4 separate regions of the Homo sapiens genome follow, and regions 1, 2 and 4 are each linked to region 3. Evidence: fine-mapped expression QTL. A gene starts in region 3. Each other region holds a variant in brackets. All regions are shown on one strand. Distances are from middle to middle.

Region 1 (5,139 bases), 49 kb before region 3:
AACCAGAGACTGAGCCCAGCCTGCTGGGGAGGGAGGCCAGCTGCAGGCTGTGCTTGTCAGGGCTGAGGCTTGGCTGGGCCCTCCTGCCCCGTGGTTATCAGAGCTATTTTGGGAAGTGGCTTGTTTCCAGCCTCCTGGCCTTGCTCCTGATGCCACTGCCACTGCTGACAGCCCCCAGCTGCCACCCGGGCCCTGCTTACTCCAGCAGACCTCCCTGGGGAGGAGGAGCAGGAAGGCAGCAGCCAGCCCTGGGCCTGGGACATCCCCCAGGCCCGGCAGAGGGCACGAGGCAGCAGGCAGGCTCCTCCACCCCAGCTCCAGGCAGAGCTCCAAAGTGCACATCTGCAGGCCTGCATCCTGGTCGCCCGGGGTGACCTCAGACAAGCTGCTTCACCTCTTGGGCCTCGGTTCCCTCCTCTGTCAACCCCACCTCCACAGCAAATGGATGTGGCCATGCTGTGTCACTGCAGTGAGCACACACACACGAGTTTCCCAGCTTTCCACATGTCCCGCCAACTGTCCCACAGACCAGCAGAACATCTGGGAATTCCAGGTCTCCAAGTCCAAGACACCTTCCCAGCCCCCCTCCACTGTTCACTGATGGCAGAAAACTCCTCACTTAGGACAGCTTCTAGTTCAGCCACCTAACCAGCCCCCATAGCCCACTCCCTGCAGCCCACTCACACCCGCCCCTGGGAGACCTTGCAAGCCCAGAGCCTCCTGGGCCATCCGTCCTTGGTTCTAGGCCCCCAGGGGCCTCAGTTTCTGTTCTCTGCCCCATCTGGTCCTCCCCCACTGGGATCATAACCACCCCGCTCCCTGTGGCCAGCCCTAGCCATAAAGGTGAGAGACGTGGTGCCAGCACCCAGCTCAGGTAGCACATAGGAGTGCTCTGAGATGCTGGCTGGGTGCGTGCTGAGGGCAGGCAGGACAGGGTGGGGGCGCTGCCACTGGGCCTTGAGGTTTGAGGCAGGAAGACCACCCATGCCAGAGGCAGGGCAGCGAGGCATGGCAGGGGCCACTCTGAGCCTGAATGAGGGCTGCCCAGGAGCTGGCACAGGTAGAGAAGGCAGCGTTGGACAAGGGGAGAAGGCAGACCGGGGAGATTGCAGGGGGCCCTGAATGCCAGCTTGAGGGCCCTGGCTGAGGACTCTGTCCTAGGGGCAGGGAGCAGACAGCCAATAGCACAGGGGACACAGCTCTTCACGCCACGGCTTCTGGATTCCTTAGACTGGCAGGGTCAGCCCCAGGCCCTCTCCCTGACCTTGCAATTGGGGATGACAGTGGCTGTGGGGGAGGGGAAAAAGCCACCTTCCCTGAGCACCACCTGGATCCCCACGCAGTGCTGCGTGCTTCATGCCCAGACCTCATTTATGCAAGGATGGGGCTTGGCAGCCCCTTTATTCAGCACATGAAGGCCCTGAGAGGGAAATGGAGCCCAAGGCCACACAGCTGGTGAGGGGAGCCTAGGTGACACTCCAGGGCCACCCCATTTCCTGCCCTCAGCACTTCCGGGAGCAGCTGGGGCTGCAGGAAGGAAGTGTATGACTGTGTGTGTGTGTGTTGGCGTGTGTGTGTGTGTGCGCGCACGCACACATGCTGGAGGCGGCGGCAGGGGTGTCCAGAACCACCTCTACCTCAGGCCCTTCCACCAGGACCCAGCTGGCCAGGAAACCCCCCACCACTGGGATTAACAGGACCCTGGAAGGGAGGCCCTTCCTGCCTCAAACCCCATTACCTCATTAGCAGGACCCTGGAAAGGAGGCCCTTCCTGTGGTTCCATTGCTCACTCTAGGCAGTCCTCTAGCCAGGGAATGGACAGGCCAGGGCTGGGGACAGGGACTCACCCAGGCCCAGTTTTCACACAGCCTCAGGGACATCCCTGGTCTCACTGTGGGAAGACTGAGACCTAGAGGAGAAAGAGCTTACCCAGGTTCACACAGCAAATCAGGGGCCAGGGCCACTCCCTCTACTCCCCCAAGGTCAGACAGCTGCCTATGGGATGTTGTGTGGCCGGGACTCCCCTTGACTGACTCCCAGCACAGCCCAGCCTCCAGCATGGCATCCTGTGGCATCAGGATTTTCAGTGGCCATGTGGCTCCTGAGCCCAGACTACAGATGGAACCAGCCAGTGCCGTGGGCACAATGGTTTGACGACCCCATTTCCCCATCACCCTCCCCACCCCACCTCACTTCAGCAGGGAGCCTGGGGTCAGGGGACTCACGGGGAGGCTCGACGGGCTCACAATCCTCGGTGCCACACGGCCGGGAGCTCTCAGGCCAGGCCTCGTGGCCACACTGGTCACTGTCTTCCTCGGGCAGCCCTGTCTGGGTGTTGACACACTTGACCAGGCGCCGCTGGACACCACCACCACAGGGG[C/G]CTGAGCACTGAGGGGAGCGGGGGAGGAATGAGTGTCTCCAGGGCCAGCCCTAGCAGTGGGGGCAGGGACACCTCCTCTGGGAAGCCGTCCCTGCGCCCTGTGCCTGACTGGCCTGGCCTTGCTCCCAGCCGCCCCCTCAGTGCCTCCTGGAGCACCTGGTCCCATTCCTAGAGCCCACTTGGTGCTGGAACCCCACTCTCACTTGTGGGATCGGCTCCTGCAGAGGGAAGGGGCGTGAGAACCGTGGGACAGCCCTCGGGGCGGCAGGGCAGTGAGCCCCTCACACAGGACATGCCTGAGAAGCCTGGGCAGGGGCGCCGGGATGGAGCCCTGATGCAGCAGTGGGCAGAGATGTGGGCGAGACACCGCTGTGCCCGAGGGACAGGGCAGAGGACCTGCCGCAGCCCATGGGCAGGAGGGCAGGAGACAGTTTCACAGCCGGGGCCCAGCCCGCCAGGCTTCGTTGTTATCAGCCCTAAACATGCACTGAGTCTGTGCCAGTGTCATGCTGTGCCCGGCCCTGTGCTTCGTTGCGTTCCTTCATTTAATCCTCCTGACCCTCCTCTCCTAAGCTGTTCCAGTTTTACAGATGAGAAAACAGTGACCCAGCAACGCAAAGCAACCTGCCCAGAGTCACTCAGCAGCCAGTCGGACAAAGACGCAAACGCTGGCCCAGCTGACTCCAGGACCCAGCTCAGGGCCCAAATCTGAGATTTCTGAACCCCTCAGTTCCAAACAGGCCCAGCAGAAGGTGTCCTGCCCATCTGAGGCCCCTCTTACGCCCCCTTCTGCCGCTGGCCTTTGCCGGGCTCCCCGGCCCCCTCAAGCTCGTCATTCCTGCCTCAGACTTCACACCTGATGTCCCTTCGATCCCTGTCCTTGGCATCACTGACTCCTCCCTCGGGTCTCAACCCCAGACCCCTCCTTGGAAGGCCTTCCCTGACACCACAGCACACGCGCCCTTTCCTTGTCTGTTTCTCCCTGGCAGGTGTGAGCACCAGCCGGGCGGGGCCTCGTCCAGTGACAGGGCCACAAAGAGCCTGGCTCACAGCACACACTCCACAGCTCCTTCACCCAACCCAAGACTGACCAGGCGCCACCAAGCACTTGCTCCCTGCTCCTCCCCGCAGCCCGGCTCACCTGGCCCCAGGGCCCCACCACCCACTGCGTGCAGGGGTGGGTGTTGCAGGGCCGGGTGGTGTTGGGTCTCAGCGCCTCCTCGCAGAGGCCTGGCTCCGGGCAGGTCACTAGACGCTGCTGCTCACCACCGCCACAGGCCTCGGAGCACTGGGTGGGCAGGGAAGGAGTCAGGGCACAGCCAGGGTCTGAGGGCGTCCCCTCCCCCCAACTCAACGGCCAGGCCTCACCTCCCTCCAGGAAGATGTGTACCAGCTGAGGCAGGGCTGGGCCCCGCAGGGCCGGTGCGCAGGCGGCTTGGCAGGCCCGGGCTGACAATGGAAGGGCCGCAGTGGCCGGAGGTCCCGTGTGTCCACACACTGCACGTCCCGCACTGAGGAACCTCCGCCGCAGCTGCGGGAGCACTGGGGACCGAGAGACGTGTATGGACACATCCCCATGTGCAGGCCCACAGGCGTGACCCCGTGAGGTGTGTGGCGGGAAAGGCATCCAGGCCCACGCCCCAGCCCGGGGGAATAGCTGAAGAACCCCAGCGAGAGGCCAAGGCTGGCAGGCCCCAGGCAAAAGGTGGCATGGCCAGGGGCTGCCACGGGCTGGGACAGACAGAGAAAGGGAGGAACAAAGGCAAGCTGGTGAAAGACAAGTCCAGATGGGGTCAAAGATACAGAGGAAAGGAGACAGGCCAAGCCAGACAAAGATGAGAAGACTCCCAAGAGATTCAGAATCCGGTGTGATCGGGCACACAGATGTGCAGCCTGGGGCCCTCCCCTTCCCTGCCGCTCTCAGAACACAGGCCGTGGGGAACCAGGGCTCCACCCCATGCCCTGGGAATGCCTGTCCTGGCTCCATCCTCACGCACCTTACTCCAGTTGCCTGAGTGCCAGGTGGCACAGGGCCGCAGGTGGCAGCGGCGGGCAGGCTGGGGCCGGCCAGCGGGGGCGCAGTCCTCATCCCGGCCGGAGCTACAGCGCACCGGCCTCCAGACCGCACCCAGGCCACAGGTGGTAGAGCACTGCGGGGCAGAGACCCGTGAAAGCCAGGCAGATCCCATCCCCGCCAGGCCTCCACAGCCAGGAAACTACCCACCTAGGCTAGCGAGACCTCAGCAAGACAGGGGCCCTCTTCTGGGCCTCAGTTTCCTTATTTGCAAAATAGGCTCCTTCACCCACCTCCCAGGAAGACCGTGAGAATGAAAAGTCAAATCCCCTCAGCAACCAGCCGTCCCTGCTCACATGGGACAAAGGGCCTGTGTTCCAGTGTCATTGGTGCAGAGGTGGGGGGAGGGGACCCTGTGGGCACCCCGACCAGCTATCTTGACCAGCCTCGTCGCTTCCCAGAGGCACCAGGGAAGGAAGGCTGGGTCCTGGTACCAGCAGCCAAATCGCTGGGTATCCCTGCGCAAAACAAGCCCTGTGGGCCTCAGCCTGCCCCTTCCCGCCCCAAAATTAGGGATCTGAACAGAAGCTTCCTTCTCCTGCAGTGACCATCTGGGGACCCAGGGAGGGGCACTAGCCAGCTTCTTTCTGGCAGCTCAGACCCCTGCAGGTCACTGCCAAAGGAGGGTGGAGCCACTGAGGGCAGAGCCAGGTGGCAGTGGGCTGAGCCCAGCCTGGAGAAGCCA
Region 2 (5,139 bases), 34 kb before region 3:
GCCTGGCCTGCATAAACTGCATTTGCCCCTGACTACAACTTTACTGGATGGGCACTGCTATTATACAGATGGGGAAATGGAGGCCCAGAGAAGGGGTGAAGAGGAGATTCGAACCCTGAGCCATCTAAGGTCCAGGGCCCATGCTCTTCCCCACTGCCCTCTCCTGCCTCCTTCCAGCCAGCAGCTGCTTTGCCATGTGGCCTCTGATGAGTCTCTCTAGTCTCTGGGCCTCAGTGTCCCCCTCTCTGGAAAGGGGTCAGAAGTGGGGACCCTGTCAGCCCCCAGAACACTCCTTGAAAGTGACTTAAGGTGGCCTGGACACTCGGACTGACCATTATCAGGACACTTCTAAGAGCCAGGGGCTGGGACAGAGCCAAGCTCCTGCAATCGGCTGACTGTTTGGGTCCCTCTGTCCCACTGCCCAAGGGCACCCTGGGCCCCACACTCACGTAGGCTGCGTGCACTGCCGCTCGGCGCTCTGTACGCCCATGCCACAGCTCCGTGAGCAGATGGACCAGGCGCTCCAGCCAGACCAGCCACCATCCACGGCCTCGGGCCGGAAGCCCACGGGTACGCACTCCCCACTGAGACACCACTACTGAGACAGACGGAGGTAGAGCCACCCCACCCCCAAGTCTATCAGTCATCCTCACCCTAGTGAGAACAAGGTGGGTGGGAAGGCTGCGAAAGGCACAGAGGGGAAGGATGGAAGGTGAGAGAGGCACCCTCACAATCATCACAATCATCTGTGACCCAGGCCACATGGAGGAGCTGAGCGGGGAGTAAAACAGCCCACATGCTGACTCAGCTGAAGACACCCTGGGGAATCATGGAATCAAGCCCTGGCCCCAATGCCTCCACTTTGCAGATGGGGGCTTGGGCTGCAGAGAGCGTGGGGCTCTGCTAGGAGCACAAGCAAGACTGTGAGCCGGGGCTGACCCCAGGGCCTGGTCACAGCAGGAAGTCTGGCCTCTCACACACCCACTGCCGGGACTGGGGACATCCCCTACCTTATTCTCCCCACACCGGGTGCCGTCCACAGCTGCATCCAGCTTGGAGTGACAGGTGGTCCCCACAGAGCACCAGAGTGTGTGGCAGACATTCTGCGAGGAGGAGGGCATGGGCCATACCCTCACACCCTCCCCAGTGCCGCCACCCACCCTGCCCCCCTCCCTGTCCCCAAGGGTCCCCTGGGCACCCCTCCACATGGCAGGGGCCCACAGACCCCCAGAGGTTCCTTCTTGTGTGCCTGCTCCCACCTTCCTCCCCGGACCATGTGGTGGTGTGGGGCGCCCGGGGCTGCGCTGCTCAGAGCGGTCCCCAGCTGTCCACACCTCTCCCGGCCCAGCCCCTCCTCTGGAAACACTCCTGTTAGAAGATCACTTCAGGCGATCTTCGCCAGGATAAACAGACCCTCTCCACAGGGGTTCCTTTTCCCTCTTATAAGCCAGCTCCAGAGAGGCGAAGGGACTTGTCCGAAGGGTCACAGTTGGTCCATGGTTGACCCAGAATTCAGAGCTGGGTCTGTGGCCGCCCATCCCTGGCCTCTCCCACAGGCCACTTGACGTCTCACAGTGTCACTCAGGGGCGCAGCCCAGGCCAGGAGAGGTTGCTCCCAGGCTGGCATCCACGGGCTGGTGAGAGCTGCCCCCTGAGCCCTCCTGCCGGGTCCCCACACCCCCACACCCACACCGGCCCCACTCACATCCATGTCCTCGCAGAAGGCAGAGTAGGCCCCGTACTGGAGGCGGCACTGGTGGCTTACATCATAGAGGACGCCAGGTGGCACCGAGGGGAAGTCGATAATGTCCTTGGCAGGAGGGTCGTCCAGGCACAGGCCCCACCCACGGCTAAAGATGGGACGGGAGGATGGAGGGGGGCGCAGCCTGTGAGACCCATCGGAGAAGCCTTGGTGGGGCCGGGACAGGAGGAGAGGTGGGAGGGGGCACAGAGCCCTACAACTGTAGGAAACTCCAGCCTCCCCGCTCGGCTCAGCCGATCCTCCACCTGCAGCCAGCAGCACAGGCCCTCCCGGCCTCTCTCATCTCACCTCCTGGGCACTCCAGCTGGCTAAACAATCCCAACCCCAATCCCAGGCCTCCGCACACGCTGCCAGGGCCCTTCCCTCAGAAGGCCTCCTGGACCACCAAGCCGTCATGTGGCCCTGCTCTCCGACCCTGCAGCCTCCGTGTCTGAGCCCAGACCCTGGAGCCAGGCCCGACAAGGATCCGGAGAACATCACATCACAGTTGACACAACAGAGCCTC[C/T]GACGGCCCCACCCAGGCAGAGACCTTGGGTCATCTGTGGAAAGGCGAGGTCTGGAAAGCAGCCCCTCCCCTGGGAGAGAGCCCAGGGCAACCATGCCTGTCCCGTTTCCCCCACACCCCGACAGGGCTGGCCTCCGGCCTCTGTCATACCCTATCTACTCCTGCCTTCCTCCAGCTGGCATTCCCTGGCAGCGGTAGCGGGGAAACTGGCAGACACAAGCAGGCGCCATCTGTGTCCACCACACACTCCTGCTGCTGTGGTGTGGTGAAGACAAGGCTGCTCAGACACAACACCATGAGGCAGGAAGCATGGAAGCAGGGACCCTGGGGAGGGCGGCCCAGTCCCTTCTGGCACCCGCTTCTGCCCCTGCCTCACTCTGTACAACCCTCAGGCATGCTATTGCTTCTGGGACCAGTGACCAGCCTGCTGCCCCTGCTGGACCTTAGGTGGCCACCACTATGGCTTAGCAGCAGGAGTGCCCTGGCATGCTGACCACCCTGCCCATGGCTCATTGCTGTCCTGGAGGAACTGGAGGAAGGTTTGCTGCCTTCTGGGGGCAGCAGTGGCTGGGGAGAATTGAGCCACACAGACTTGCAGGGCTGGGGACGACCCAGGCAGCCACGACTTGGGCAGAAACAATGGAGGGAGGCAGGACCCGCGGGACCTGGGGCCTCTAGCCAGGCAGAGGAGATGGGGAGGCACAAACCCTCCAGTTCTCCAGTCTGGGTGGCCTCAGGGCAGGTGGCGCCAGGACAGAGGGTCAGGATGAGCATACAGTCCTGATTGGGACAGGCAGGGGGTTGCACAGGGAAGAAGGGCAAAGGTGATAGATCCTGGAGTCCAGCAGGGAGAGAAAGAGACACTCCGAGATGTGGAGAGGCTGGGAGAACACGAAAGGGTCAGGAAACAGGGCCAAGACCACTGAAGGCAGGTGTGGAGAGAGGCTGGGAGGGTGGATCAGACCATGGACTCCCGAAGCCCTGATTTCAGAGGAGGGGGCCTGGCAGCTTGGAGATCCAGAGTGGAGTGGGTGTTTGCGTGGTCTCCTAAATCCCCCGACCAGTGACAGGCCCCCGGCCCTGCCCAGAGCTGCGGAGAAGAAAGCCAAGGTGACCAGACTTCTACTGAGAACCCTGGAATCCTCCTGGAATCACTCAGACTGCCCATGCTGGCTGGAAACAGATCCTCTAACATGGGCGTTGGCAGATGAGCAGCTGCTGGATGCAGTCCTAGTGCCCAAGATGATCACATGCCAGGCTGGTCCAGGGTGCTGGGGGCATACCCTCTCATTTGCTCCTCACAACATCCTGGGCAGACTCTACCATCATCTCCCCTCATGCACTCAGGGCCCATAGGTCACTGGCCCCGGGTCGCACAAGAGAGATGTGATGGCCAGGATCTGGAGCCAGGCCCAGGCTGCCTGCACCAGGCTGTGTCTACTCACTGGGCTACCCCCAGTGCAGGGCTCCTCCCATTCAACTGCGAGCCTGGCCTCAAATACTTCACCCCACATACAAGTTCAAAACCATGGCAGCGAGACCTGGTGGGGAGAAAGGAGTGTCCCAAGTGCTCCTGCGGCTTGGGGCTCCCTGAGCCTCCCTGGGCCTGCACCCGGGGCAGAGTATCAGCGGCGGGTGGTGGGGTCAGCTGGCCCTGGGCTCCCTCCTTCCCGCTAGCATTCTGTGGCTCGAGGAGGTAGACTGGGGGCTCACCCATCCCAGCCAGGGGGTCCTCTGACCCTGGGGCTGAGGGGTCCAATGCACCTCATCCCAGCACCAACAGTCCCTGGGCTGCAGCCCAGCCCTTCTGCTTCCTGGCTGCCCCAGTGCTGACTCGCTGCACATGTGGCTCCTGCGGGCCTGCTGTTGGGCAGCTGAAGCCACAACAACCTCTCAGCCCACCCTGGGTGTGTGGGAGAAGTCGGGAGCATGAGGCGACCCTCACAGAATCCACTGTGAGAATCAGGCCGAGGTGCTGTCTTGGGAGTCAGAAACCCAAGTTCTACTCTTTGCCTGGCTATAGATGCTGTGTGGCCTTGGGCCTTCACGTCCTCATCTACAAGAGGCTGATCCCAAGCTACAGGGGTATAAATAGCAGTGTCTTCTTGGGAAAAATCACACAGGCGGCCGGCAGCCAGCCCTTCCTTCCTCTGGCAGGCTCACTGCCAGGTCCTCTGCGCTGCCGACACACCCGGATCCCCAAACCCGTCAGCCCTTCCCCTCCACGCCCCTCCTTAAGCTAATTATAGCGGGGCTGGGCAGTCCCACAAGAGGTCAAAGGAGACAGTAGGTGACTCCAGTCAGAAGCCTCACTCTCACCTTGAGACTGCAAAGAGCTGCCTGCCACTGACAGGAGAGACCTGGGGGCCCGCTCCCCTGGCCACCCCTGGCCACCCCAGGGATCTGGTCATGGAGTCACTGAATGGGGGGTCCACGGGGTGAAGTGAAGGACCCCACATGTGACCCAGCCTGCCTCTCTCCCTGTAGAAATGCTGGCTTTGAGGAAAGCAGGGACCAGGGCCTCCCCTCCTCCCCACCCAGGTCCAAGTTGACACTGGTGAAATGCTGTGACCTCTCCCCAGGGTCCCTTAAAGCACCTGTCAGTCCGGAAAGGTTCTTAGAGTTCTTCAGGTCAACCCTCTTGGACAAGCTCCAGAAGCTACCCTCCAGTGCCCCCCCACCACCTCCTGAGGGTTCTTCTGCCCCACCCTATACTCGCATGGCCCCGGCCTCTGCCCAGCCTGCCCTCCACTTACAGCAGCACCCTTCTTCCTCGGCGTGGAAGCTGGCCTTTAGAAGGCAGGCTCCTTCTCCGAGTCACTGTTCCTGACCCCAGGAGGGCTTGGTGGCCCTCTCCCCATTCCTACAGACC
Region 3 (5,139 bases):
AGGATGAGCCCTTTGGTCTTAAAGAAGGTAACATTCAGTGGTAGGAGGAGCCCCAGGCTTAGGTCCTGGGCTTCAAAGAAAATGACAAACAGGCCAGCAGCCTCAGAGTCACCAATCCTGAGGGAGTGCAGAACAGGAAGGACCCCATGCTCTATATCTATGGGAACACTAGAGACAGACTTCACCCTTGGAGTGTTTGTGCCCAGATTAGGTTGGAGAGAGTGCCTGGCCTGCCTCCACCCTCAAACAGCAGGTCCAGGTCATCTGGGGAGTCCTGGGTCGGCCTGGCAGATTAATAAAAATAATGACCACTACATTGTAGTCACTGTGTCCTGCCTGAGCAACTGACATATTCAATATCTCATTTAATCCTCATAAGAATCCCACGAGGTTGACCGCACCCAACTCTTCCCACAGCTGCCAGGGGGCCAGGACCCAAGTCCTGAGGGAAGCATTTTCCTGCTCTCCCATTCCCATCGCCCGGTTCATCCTCCTCAGCCCCCAGCTCTGGACAGTGGAAAACACAAGCCTCATTCAGGAAGCTCAGGAGTCCAACCCCACAGGTCGCTCTACTCTGAGCCTGTTTGCTGGTCCATAAAAGGACTTTCCATCACTTGCTTTGCACGGTTGTTGTGGAGATGATGAGAAATAAGAACCCGTGAGGCTGGCACACAGTAGGTGCTCATTAAATGTTCGCTCCCTCTGCGCTCTGCGCATGGCTGCTAGACCAAATCTTTCCAAAACACTGCTTTCATCAGCTGCTCCCCTCAACGGCTTCCCAAACCTCTAAGATCAAGAGTCAATGTCCCCATCCTTCCCGCCCAGACTACTTTCTCGTCACAATCCCTCCAGTGGGGAGGCAGGTCGACCCCATCCCAGCAAGCAACCCTAATCCAGTCCCCCGACTGATGCTCCCCAGGGGAGGGCCCCACTCCCTCCACGCCCTTCTAGCTCATCCAGAATCCATCCATCCTTCCAGTCTCTCCAACCTCATGCCCCTCCTCTCCTACAAAGCCTGCCGGTCGGCTCTATTGCAGGACTCTCCCCACTATCCACCGGCTCCCCTGACTGGGAGCTCCCTGAGCACCGGGCCTGGGGTCTCCTACATCCTCGGTTACTGAATTCCCAGGCCGGCTGCGTCGGACGCGCCAGCAGCGCGGCCGCCCGGCAGGTCGCCGCCAAACAAGAGTCTGGACGCAGGCCAGAGGCTCGTCGGAGGCCGGCCCGGCGGGGCGGGGAGAGTTAACCCATGGCCGGGAAAAGAAGCTCCTGCTCCCCGCTCCACTCCCGGCGTCTTCACACTTGGGGAAGGGAGAGGCAGGAAGTGCAAGGACCGCGCAAGACCCGGCCCCCCGAGCCGCCAGGGGCCGCGCCAGCAGCCCAGATGCGGTGGGCGGGAGCTGGGGGGGCGGCGGGGTCCCGCGAAGACCTGCGACCTGGCGCCCTCGCCGGCTGTGTCCCGGCCAGCCCGCTTTCCAGGCGAGCCTCGCTAAGGAGTGTGAGAAACCAAATCCTCAGTGGGTAAACCGCGCTCCGTCCAGCCCACTCGGACGAGAGCTCTCCCGGGAGCCAGGCGCGTTGCTGCACCCGAGGTGGGGAAACCGGAGCCCGAAGAGCGGAAGGGGCTTATTCCAGGCGACAGGCAGTGTCAGTAACTGAATCAGGGGCCGAGGAAGTTTCCCCAGAAGCGCGGCTTCGCTCCCGGCCCGGCCCGACCCCGACTACTGTCCCCTAATACCCAGGGAGCGGAAGACGCGACCAACTCCAGGCACAGCGGAGCCGGCGCGGGGTCCACAAAGGTGAGGAGGGACAAAACCGAGACTGGGGGAGCGGGAAGGGGTGGCAGGCCCGGCTGGCCGGGGAGGGGCGGACACCCACCTGGTGCGGGTCCGGGGGCGCCGGGAGCCAGAGCGCAGAGGAGCAGGAGGAGGGGGCGCAGCAAAGGCGCGGGGCTGCGGGGACTGGGGCCGCCGGGCATGGCAGGAACCGGGCGGCCGCCGGGTGACCCCGCGCGCACGCTCTCGTCCGTCCCGTCCGGTCGCTGCCTGGTCCCAGGTCCGGCTCAGGACATGCCCGGCCGGCGTGCAGCTCCCGGCGACCCGGCCCCGACTCCGTTCGGCTGCGCTCGGTCCGCGGGCAACAAAGGCTGCAGGGCCCGCCCCCTTGGCCGCTGCAGAGGCAAAGAAAAGACAAGAGAGCTAGAAGGAGAGAAAGAAAGAAAGAAAGAAAGGGAGGGAGAGTGAGGGAGGGCGGCTGCCGGCCCCCGCCCCGCCCCTCGGACTCCTTCCCCCGCCCCTGGCCCCGCCCCGCCCCGGCCGGCCCCGGCCTCATCGGCCCCGCAGGCCGTGCTCGCCTCAAGGGCTGGCCGGCCCGGCGCAGGCAGCGCCCCGCAACGGATGTCCGCCCCCCTCGCCCCCCTGTCCCGAGCGCCCCCTGCCGGCGGAGCCCTGCCAGGCCTTTCCGACCCCGGCCGGTTGAGGACCCCCGGAAAGAATCTGGAATTTCCAGAATTAATGTGTTGTCCCTAAATTGGGCTCCACGAGGTGCCCTTCGCTGTGTTCCCCAGGCCAAGCAGGGCAGCCCCTCAAAAGGGGACGCGGGAGGCCTCCAGAGGGCCACACCGGGGGCCCTGCTTCAAAGCTATCTGCGGAGACAGGCCTGGGCCCTCCCTGGACAGACAGCGGTTGCCCGCGCGAGGTGGGGCCCCGCAGTTCCTCGTCTCCTGACTCCTCTCCTAGTGCGTTTGCTTGAAGCAGAGCGCAGAGTTGAGCCCACAGGCGGGGGACCGCGGCTTCGCCCAGGCCAGCGCCCACAGACTTTCAGCAGGGGCTCCCGGGGAGCCTGGAGGCCGGCCAACCCCAGCCTCACATCCCAGGCCAGCCTCCGCCTCCAACACCGGCCGTCTGTCCTTCGTGGCCCCAGCCCTGGCTCTGGCTTCCGGCTCCCCTTCCCCCTGTGCTCCCAGGAGCTTCCTTTCTCCCTTCTGCCGTCACTAAACATGGCCCTGTACCGAGGACGCCCGTCTTGTCCTCGGGGCGGTTGCGGTCAGCTTCCTCCCCTTGGTTAGTCTTTGTGTGCCCCCTGCCCTCTGAGGCCCGCACACCTCCTCATTGTCCAATCTCCTGGGCCCTTTCATTCAATTCCTGGAAGCTCACTTCTGGCTTCCTCTCCACCCTCAACCTGTCTGTCCTCTAGGGAATTTGTGTAGTACAGGGTCACCTACTTCCTCCATCTCATCTCCAGTGACCTTCCACTCCACCTCAGCCATCAGGTCTCAGGGCCAAAGCCTGGGCTGTGTCATCCCTCAGAACTGCTCCATCTTGGAAATCCGAAGCTCAGGTGCCCCCCTGTCAGACCCGACTCTGCAGTCCTTTCCACCTTCACAGTCCCACTATGTATTGCTCTTCCTCCAGTCCCTTGATACCTTCCTCTTCGCCCAACCTACCAGCCCCTCCTGGCTTCACCTACTTCCCTCCCAGCTACATCTACTGCTTGACTCCTGGCCCCTACCCAACCACCTTGCATTTCTTCCCCACTGCTTACACCAGCTGGTCTTGCTGCTCAGTGACATGGACAATTCAGACCACCACATCCTACCATGCACACTGCATACAATGAGCCTTTGTAGCTGGCACCCACTCACTTCTCCCTCCATCTGGACACAGTGAAACAGGTGCCCTCCAGCAGTCAGAGACAATGCTTCCACCAGGGCTCTGTGGCTCCCTCCCCTCCTGTCTCCTCAAAGGTCCTGCTCCAGGTGTCCCCCGCTTTCCTTGGTCTCCTTGGGTTGGTGACCGTCAGTCTAAAAACATTCTTGTCTTCCTCCTATTAAAGATACTGATAATAGCTGGGTATAGTGGCACAGGCCTGTAGTCCCAGTGATACTCAGGAGGCTGAGGAGGGAGGATTACTTGAACCCAGAAGTTCCAGGCCAGTCTGGGAGACATACTGAGACACTGTCTCTAGGGAAAAACAAACAAACAAACAAAAAGCAGGCAAGGTGCCTCACACCTATAATCTCAACACTTTGGGAGGCTGAGGTGGGAGGGTCACTTGAGCCCCGAGTTTGGGACCAGCCTGGGCAACATAGTGAAACACCGTCTCTACAAAAAAATTAAAAATTAGCCCAGCATGGTGGCATATGCCTGTGATCCCAGCTATTTGGGGGGCTGAGGTGGGAGGATCACTTGAGTCCAGGAGATTGAGGCTGGGCCAGGCCTGGCCCCACCAATGAGCAGTAGCCAAGATCACGCCACTGCATTCCGGCCTGTGCAACAAAGTGAGGCCCTGTCTCAAAAAAAACAAAAAAAGTACTGATAATACCCCTCCATGGACTGGGTGTCCCCTCTAATTCCCACCCCACATATCTGCTCCCTGTCTTAGTCAAACTTCTCCCTCAAGGTTGTCTAGATTCCCCCTTTTCCCATTTGTACCTCAGGCTAAGCCTCTTGTCCCCCCATCTTGGTGTCAAAGCCAAATTCCTTCTCCACCTTGACCTGCACAGTGCATTCTAGAGATACCCTCCCTGTTCACATACCTCCACTCTGCCCTCATCACCTGGCACATCTCTTCTTCACTCCATAAGATCAAGTATGCACTGCAGACCCAGGGCACTGGGGACACAGCTGTGAACAGGTGGATAAGGTCTCTGTTCCCTGGAGCTCCCACTCTGGAGGAGGCCATGGACAGCAAGCAAATAGACAGATGGATAAACAATTCAGACCACCATATAAACAAGACCAGCTACAGAGAGGTGCTTTGAAGAAAATAAAACCGGAAGTGACTAGAGTCTACTTTCCATGGGGTGGTCAGGGAAGGCCTTCCTAAAAAGGTGACATTTAAGCTGTGATACCAGAATGACAAAAAGGAGCCAGTCATGTGAAGGTGAAAGGGAGAAGATGTGAGCCAGGCATGGGATGCATGCCTGTTGTCCTACCTGCTCAGGAGAATGTGGAGGGAGGATCCTTTGAACCCAGGAGATCGAGGCTGCAGTGAGCTCTGATTGCACCACTGCACTCCAGCCTAGGCGAGAGAATGAGAGACCCTGTCTCTAGAAATAAAAATAAATCTTAAAAAGCTGGACACTGGTCAGGCGCAGTGGCTCACACCTGTAATCCCAGCACTTTGGGAGGCCGAGGA
Region 4 (5,139 bases), 55 kb before region 3:
AAACAGTGGACCGTCATATTGCAAAGCAGGCCCACGCCTGGGCTGGCCTTGGTTGAGGGGATGGAGGAATGTTTTCGGGGGTGCTTTGCAGGGCAGTGGTGCAGCCGCAGTGTGAACGGTCTTGGACAGCTGAAAACCATGGCCTCCTTGGGGATGGCCAGTGCTCCTGGTGTCTCCTCCACCTGCCTGGGTTGTGCAGGAGGCCAGCTGCCAGTGCCTGGGGCTGGGAAACTTTTTTGCTTGGGGCAGGCTTGGGCGAGCTCTCCCAGATGTGTGCCCACCCCACCACTGCCTGGAAGCATCCTTGTTCTCTGCCAGGATGCAGGGTCACTGTTGCCTCTGACACAGCAGTTTCTGGGAACTCAGAGGACTGCCTTTCTGAAGGCTGGGGAGAGGCTTTGAGCAAGGAGCTTGTTTTTGCTTAATCCCTCTAGACCATCCCTGATGCGTAGATGTGAGAGGATGTTTTCTGGCACAGTGTTATGAAAATACAGGAGAAACAGTCTCAGTGGAATGTTTCATATTACCCGAAAAAAACTGGAAACCATCCTCTGTTGATACGAACACACTGAGACTAAGAATTGAAGTAATGCAGTTTTAAGAAGTACTTTTTTCCTATTATTTTTTGCTGTCAACTTTCTAGCAATGCCACGGCAAAGTTGGTGTTTCAGCACATGCTAGAGTGAGCTCCGGCTTCGTGTCTTTAGCGGAGTTGGTTAATGTTTCACTGGGTAGACGGAGCTGGCCTCTATATTTAGCCAGAAGCCTTTGCCTCTTTTCAGGCATCAAAAATGGGTGTTGTCATTGTCTTTGAGAACAGCAATTTGAGGTCTGACTCCTTCAGTTGTCCTGTGAGCTGGGCGTTGCAGTCCGCTCGAATCAAGTGTTGGAAACCCCCCACCCCACCCCTCAGCCCATCGTGAAACGACAGCTGTCAGCCTGGGGGGTGGCTGCTGAGGAGGTGCAGCAGGAATGGGGCTGGGCCCGTGGGCCAGCACCAGCTGCCCTTAGGTTTTACTTTCCAAGCCAATGGCCCCTGGAACATGCCAGCACACACTGCCATGTCCTGGGGCTAAGAGCTGCCTTTAGGGACAGGCTCGTGTTGTCCAGTTTGCCCTGAGAGATGCACCTGACCAGGGGCCCGTCGTGGCTGCAACCCACGGTGGTATGTTAGTGTTTCCAGGCAGTTGTCAGCAGCTGCCGGGTAGTGTGTGTGTGCGACAGCAGGAGAGTTCCTGGAGGAAAGGGACTGGGGACACTTTCTCAGAGGTTCTCCTGCCTGGAATCAAGTGATGCGTGTCCAGAAGGCAAGAGAGGGCGGCTCCGCCTGGTTAAAGTTTGGGAACGGGACGGAGCCAACTCCTCCTTCCAGGACTGTGGGCCCCACTCTTTTGCGCTAACACTTCCCCTCCCTCGGGTCACTGAGGAAAGAGCTGCTCTGTCCCCTCCAGTGCCCTGAAGGTCCCTGGCCTCCACTGGCTGCCATGGCAGGGGGCCCTTCTGACAGGGGCTGCCCCAAGCTGCTGTTCCTCCTCTGAACCTTCACCCCAACACCCAGCCCGTGGCCCCTGCAAGGGGGACCCTGCCAGCTGGGAAACCCAAAGGCCTGTCCAAATGCGCGCACCAGGACCGAGGGGAGCTCCCTCCCCACATCTGCTGCGAATTGCCAGCTTTTAAATGGATGGGGTTTTTTATGGGTTGAACCTCTGTTAATACTTTTGTACACTCTCACTACAGTTTATATTTTTATAGGCTATTTTCTCAAGGTGTTTCTAGATTCCACATATCTATTTTATATAACAAGTTCTTATGTTATGTGTGTGACTCCCTTGTGTGTATCTGTGCCAGCCTCAGCCTCCGAGTTGCTTTTCCCTCTGGCCCTGACTCTCACTGACTCACCGATGTGATGTGCAGGCCCACTTCTTACCCCAGATAGCCTCGGGTGCTGCCTGTAGTCATGCTGACAGCTGTACAGTAGCCGCCAAGACTGCTGACGGCTGGAGACGGTTCTGGTTTCAACAACTACGGTATATTGATATCGGAAGTATTCTAGACAGATCCTCAGTTGGGTTTTCTAGCTACATGTTTGTATTGCACAGATCCCCACCTGCCATCCTATAGTGTTGTCTTCCTGTGTGTTCCGGGGCTTCTGGGCAGCTGGGCCTGCCCGGGGAAGTCCTTGCAGGTGGGAGGCCATACAGAGACCCAGTGTGTGCCACTGAGCGTCCCACCGCTGCTGGGCAACTGGAGGACTGCAGGGGGCGCCAGGTGACTCTCTCCTTTTATATCACAGCAGCTCCTGTGCTGACCTTCAAGTTATGTTTTGGAACTGTAATACTAAAGGAAGAAATAAACTACTAATTTGTATAATATTCTGCATTGAAATTCAGTTATAGTCACTAGTGATGGGGCTCACCCCAAGGGCTTGGAGGGTGGGGCAGGGCTTATTGGTGTTGCGGGGGGCGAGGAGGGGCTCTCCAACCTTCCAGCCTGGCGTTTCTGGGTGTCTCTGCCCTTGGCTCACCCTGGGGCGGGTGCATCAGGATGCCTTTGCCAGCAGGGGCAGCCTTGGGAGGCCCCAAGAACCATGGCCAAGCTGCAGGTGTGGGCTGGGGGCACCGAGGTGGGAAAGCCGGAAGCTGGAGACTCCCTGTGTCCGGATAACCCCCCGCCCAGCCACAAAGAACAGGCATGCCTCCTTCCGCCAGCTGTGCCATGCCCTGCCTGAGTCACAGGCTTGTTTGTCTCCCGTCTTGGCTGACAGCTCAGGCCCAGCTGCCACTGGGGACACCCCCAGTCATCAGTGGAAAACACCCAAGAATGATGAAGACCAAAGGGGTTCCCATAGGGGTGTTTCGGGGTGGCTCCATCAAGGATTCCCAGACAGGGCAGGCCAAGGCCTGGCAGGCTTTTCTCTTCTGGGGA[C/T]GTGGATTCAGCGAGGCTGGGGGTTCCTGGAGTCACGCAGCAGAGCGGCGGCGGCAGAGCTGGGACAGGGACTGGTTCGGTGTGTGGGTCAGGAGCAAGTCGACAGGCCCTGCTCCCCACCCCTTGGAAGGGAGTGCCACCAGGGGCCGTTCTGACTAAGGCCTGGGAAGCCGTGACTCAGAGCGTGGGTCCCCAGGGTCTCTTTGGGCCAGCCGGGCTGCTGCAGACAGACAGGAAGCACGCCTGACGCTCCTCCACCCTCGGGCAGCACAGCGGGGCTGGGACTCACGCTAGCTTGCCCAGCAACTTGCTTTCCTGCGTGAACTCTGGCAGGCTGCCCTCTCTGTGCAAAGCCACCACTGGGACCTGCTTGGGGCCCTCTCCCTCTTCCACCTGCTCAGGGTAGCCTGGAGCTTGGAGGTGGGCAGTCGGAGCCTAGGATGGGCCTGTGTCACCAGGGCATGTGCCCTTGGGCCAGGTACTTCCTCTCAGAGCCTTGAGTTCCTCCTCTGAGGATCGGGCTTGTTGGTGTGAAATGAGGTGAGCATGTTGAATTGGGGAGCAGCAGGACACGCACCTGCAGGCAGCTGCCGTGGCCATGCTCCCTCCCTCCCTTCCAAGTCCTGGGACAGACGCTCATCGCCGAGGGGTTCAGCCTCTGATACTGTTTCTTGGTCTCAGCCCCTAAGGAGTAATTTTATTTTATTTTTTTTGTGTGAGATGGAGTCTCGCTCTGTCGCCCAGGCTGGTGTGTAAAGGTGCGAACTCAGTTCACTGCAACCTCCGCCTCCCAGGTTCAAGCGATTCTCCTTCCTCAGCCTCCCAAGTAGCTGGGATTACAGGTCCCCATCACCGCACCTGGCTAATTTTTGTATTTTTAGCAGAAATGGGGTTTTGCCACATTGGCCAGGCTGGTTTCAAACTCCTGACCTCAGGTGATCCGCCCGCCTCAGCCTCCCAAAGTGCTGGGATTACAGGTGTGAGCCACCGCGCCCAGCCAGGAGTGATTTTCAGTGGTGTCCCCTCCATCCCCAGCATATACCCAGCCCTGAGTGGCTGCGGCTGCCACATGCAGGCTCCAGGGCTACATTCACCTTTCGTCCAGGGTTGTCATACGCTGGAGAGTAGAATGTGAGAGGTGACCCCTGTAGGCTGCAGGGCGAGCTCTCTGAACCTTAGTGTCCCCCACCTGGAGAAGGGGCGTAACACCTTCCAGGGGGAGGGCTGAGGAAGAAATTGTCAACGGCTGAGTCTAAGGCTCACAGCCAGAGGCCAGGGTTGGATCCAGGGCTGGGCCTGGGCCTGGGGGGACAGTGTCCGCCCCTTCCCCAGCCTCCCGCCCCTGGTCAGGCCAGGACCCTCTTCAAAGCACCTTCATGCCCATCTGTTCCCTGCTGTGGGCACTACTGTCTGGCTCCATGGGACTAGATTTTATGGGAGGGGAAGGGGCTGTGGGTAGGCAGGTGCCAGGTGCTGGACCATAGATCAGCGTGGTAGGAACCTGTAGCTGGGGCTGGTGGTGGGAAAGGGGCCAACCTGAGGCAGTGACAATTAGCCCAGCCCTATCTCTGGGCACAGAGATGAAGGGACACGTGGGGACACAGTAGGGCACAGCTGGCCAGCCTGCTCTTCCCCTCTCTGCCTGCTTTTTGCAGAAGAGTCAACAGATAGAACAGACAGGGCCAGGGAGGTCCCCATGGGGGCCCCAGTCCCCACCACTCCAGGGGGCAGTCCCTGCAAGTGACATGGTGGGCTCAATCCCTGTGGAACAGGTCTCTGAGGACCACAGAGTGGGGCCCCAGGGAAGGCTGGGAGCCTGAGCTGAAGGCAGGCAGCAAGTAAGGGCCAAGCCGTGCCCCTGCCCGGAAGACCTTCCTGCCCCCAGAACCCCACCCTCTGCAGACAGCCCTCCCTGGGGAGCAGCCCCCCAGCTTCTGAGGCCTTCCGTGCCTCACCAGATGCCATGCTCTCAGGGACTCATTTTCTACGCTGCCCCCTGCAGATCTGTCCCAGAGGAGCAGGTGAAAAGCCACGCCTGCCGAGGTGCTGTGGCGGTGGAGTTTTGGGCAGAGGGGTGGGGGGAAGAGTTTCTCACTTTTAAGATTCTCCAAATCCAAGACGAAGTCACGCTGTGCTTTGGAATGGTAGATGCTCATTTATGTAAAATCATAATAAATGTTACACAAACTGTTAGAATAAAAAAATACCTTTTTT

Alleles and levels. Alleles are on the strand shown, and positions count from the first base shown. SD is a standard deviation of normalised expression in the study named. Not every link is listed here.
For the expression in lymphoblastoid cells of the gene that starts at base 2,222 in region 3, C is the high allele of the variant in region 1 and G is the other (moderate effect, 0.75 SD a copy in GEUVADIS).
In carriers of allele C in region 4, the expression in monocytes after Pam3CSK4 of the gene that starts at base 2,222 in region 3 tends to be lower than with T alone (large effect, 1.1 SD a copy in Quach 2016).

Evidence for each region. PIP is the estimated chance that this variant, and not a neighbour inherited with it, causes the effect. A credible set is the group of variants that fine-mapping cannot tell apart.
Region 1: its variant is the best candidate, but not a certain one, in a credible set for the expression of ADAMTS7 in lymphoblastoid cells (GEUVADIS, PIP 0.88).
Region 2: its variant is the best candidate, but not a certain one, in a credible set for the expression of ADAMTS7 in lung (TOPMed, PIP 0.82).
Region 4: its variant is the best candidate, but not a certain one, in a credible set for the expression of ADAMTS7 in monocytes after Pam3CSK4 (Quach 2016, PIP 0.77).

What each region holds. Positions count from the first base shown.
Region 1 is chr15:78,760,178-78,765,316 of GRCh38, forward strand. It overlaps ADAMTS7 (ADAM metallopeptidase with thrombospondin type 1 motif 7), which reads right to left. Exons shown (of 24, transcript NM_014272.5): 20 at 4,378-4,530; 21 at 3,749-3,922; 22 at 3,522-3,668; 23 at 2,226-2,388. Among named protein-coding and RNA genes, the nearest start is that of ADAMTS7, 49 kb to the right of the region's middle. The variant C/G (reference allele first, on the strand shown) is at 2,381.
Region 2 is chr15:78,775,739-78,780,877 of GRCh38, forward strand. ADAMTS7 (ADAM metallopeptidase with thrombospondin type 1 motif 7) reads right to left here. Exons shown (of 24, transcript NM_014272.5): 9 at 1,706-1,850; 10 at 1,011-1,103; 11 at 450-595. Among named protein-coding and RNA genes, the nearest start is that of ADAMTS7, 33 kb to the right of the region's middle. The variant C/T (reference allele first, on the strand shown) is at 2,268.
Region 3 is chr15:78,809,243-78,814,381 of GRCh38, forward strand. It overlaps ADAMTS7 (ADAM metallopeptidase with thrombospondin type 1 motif 7), which reads right to left and starts at 2,222. Exons shown (of 24, transcript NM_014272.5): 1 at 1,879-2,222. The coding sequence starts at 1,978. RefSeq lists a silencer at 2,250-2,669.
Region 4 is chr15:78,754,146-78,759,284 of GRCh38, forward strand. LOC112268143 (a long non-coding RNA gene) reads right to left here and starts at 3,600. Exons shown (of 2, transcript XR_002957697.1): 1 at 3,503-3,600; 2 at 1,819-2,337. It overlaps ADAMTS7 (ADAM metallopeptidase with thrombospondin type 1 motif 7), which reads right to left. Exons shown (of 24, transcript NM_014272.5): 24 at 5,061-5,139. RefSeq lists enhancers at 2,177-2,981, 2,657-2,866, 2,982-3,786. The variant C/T (reference allele first, on the strand shown) is at 2,926.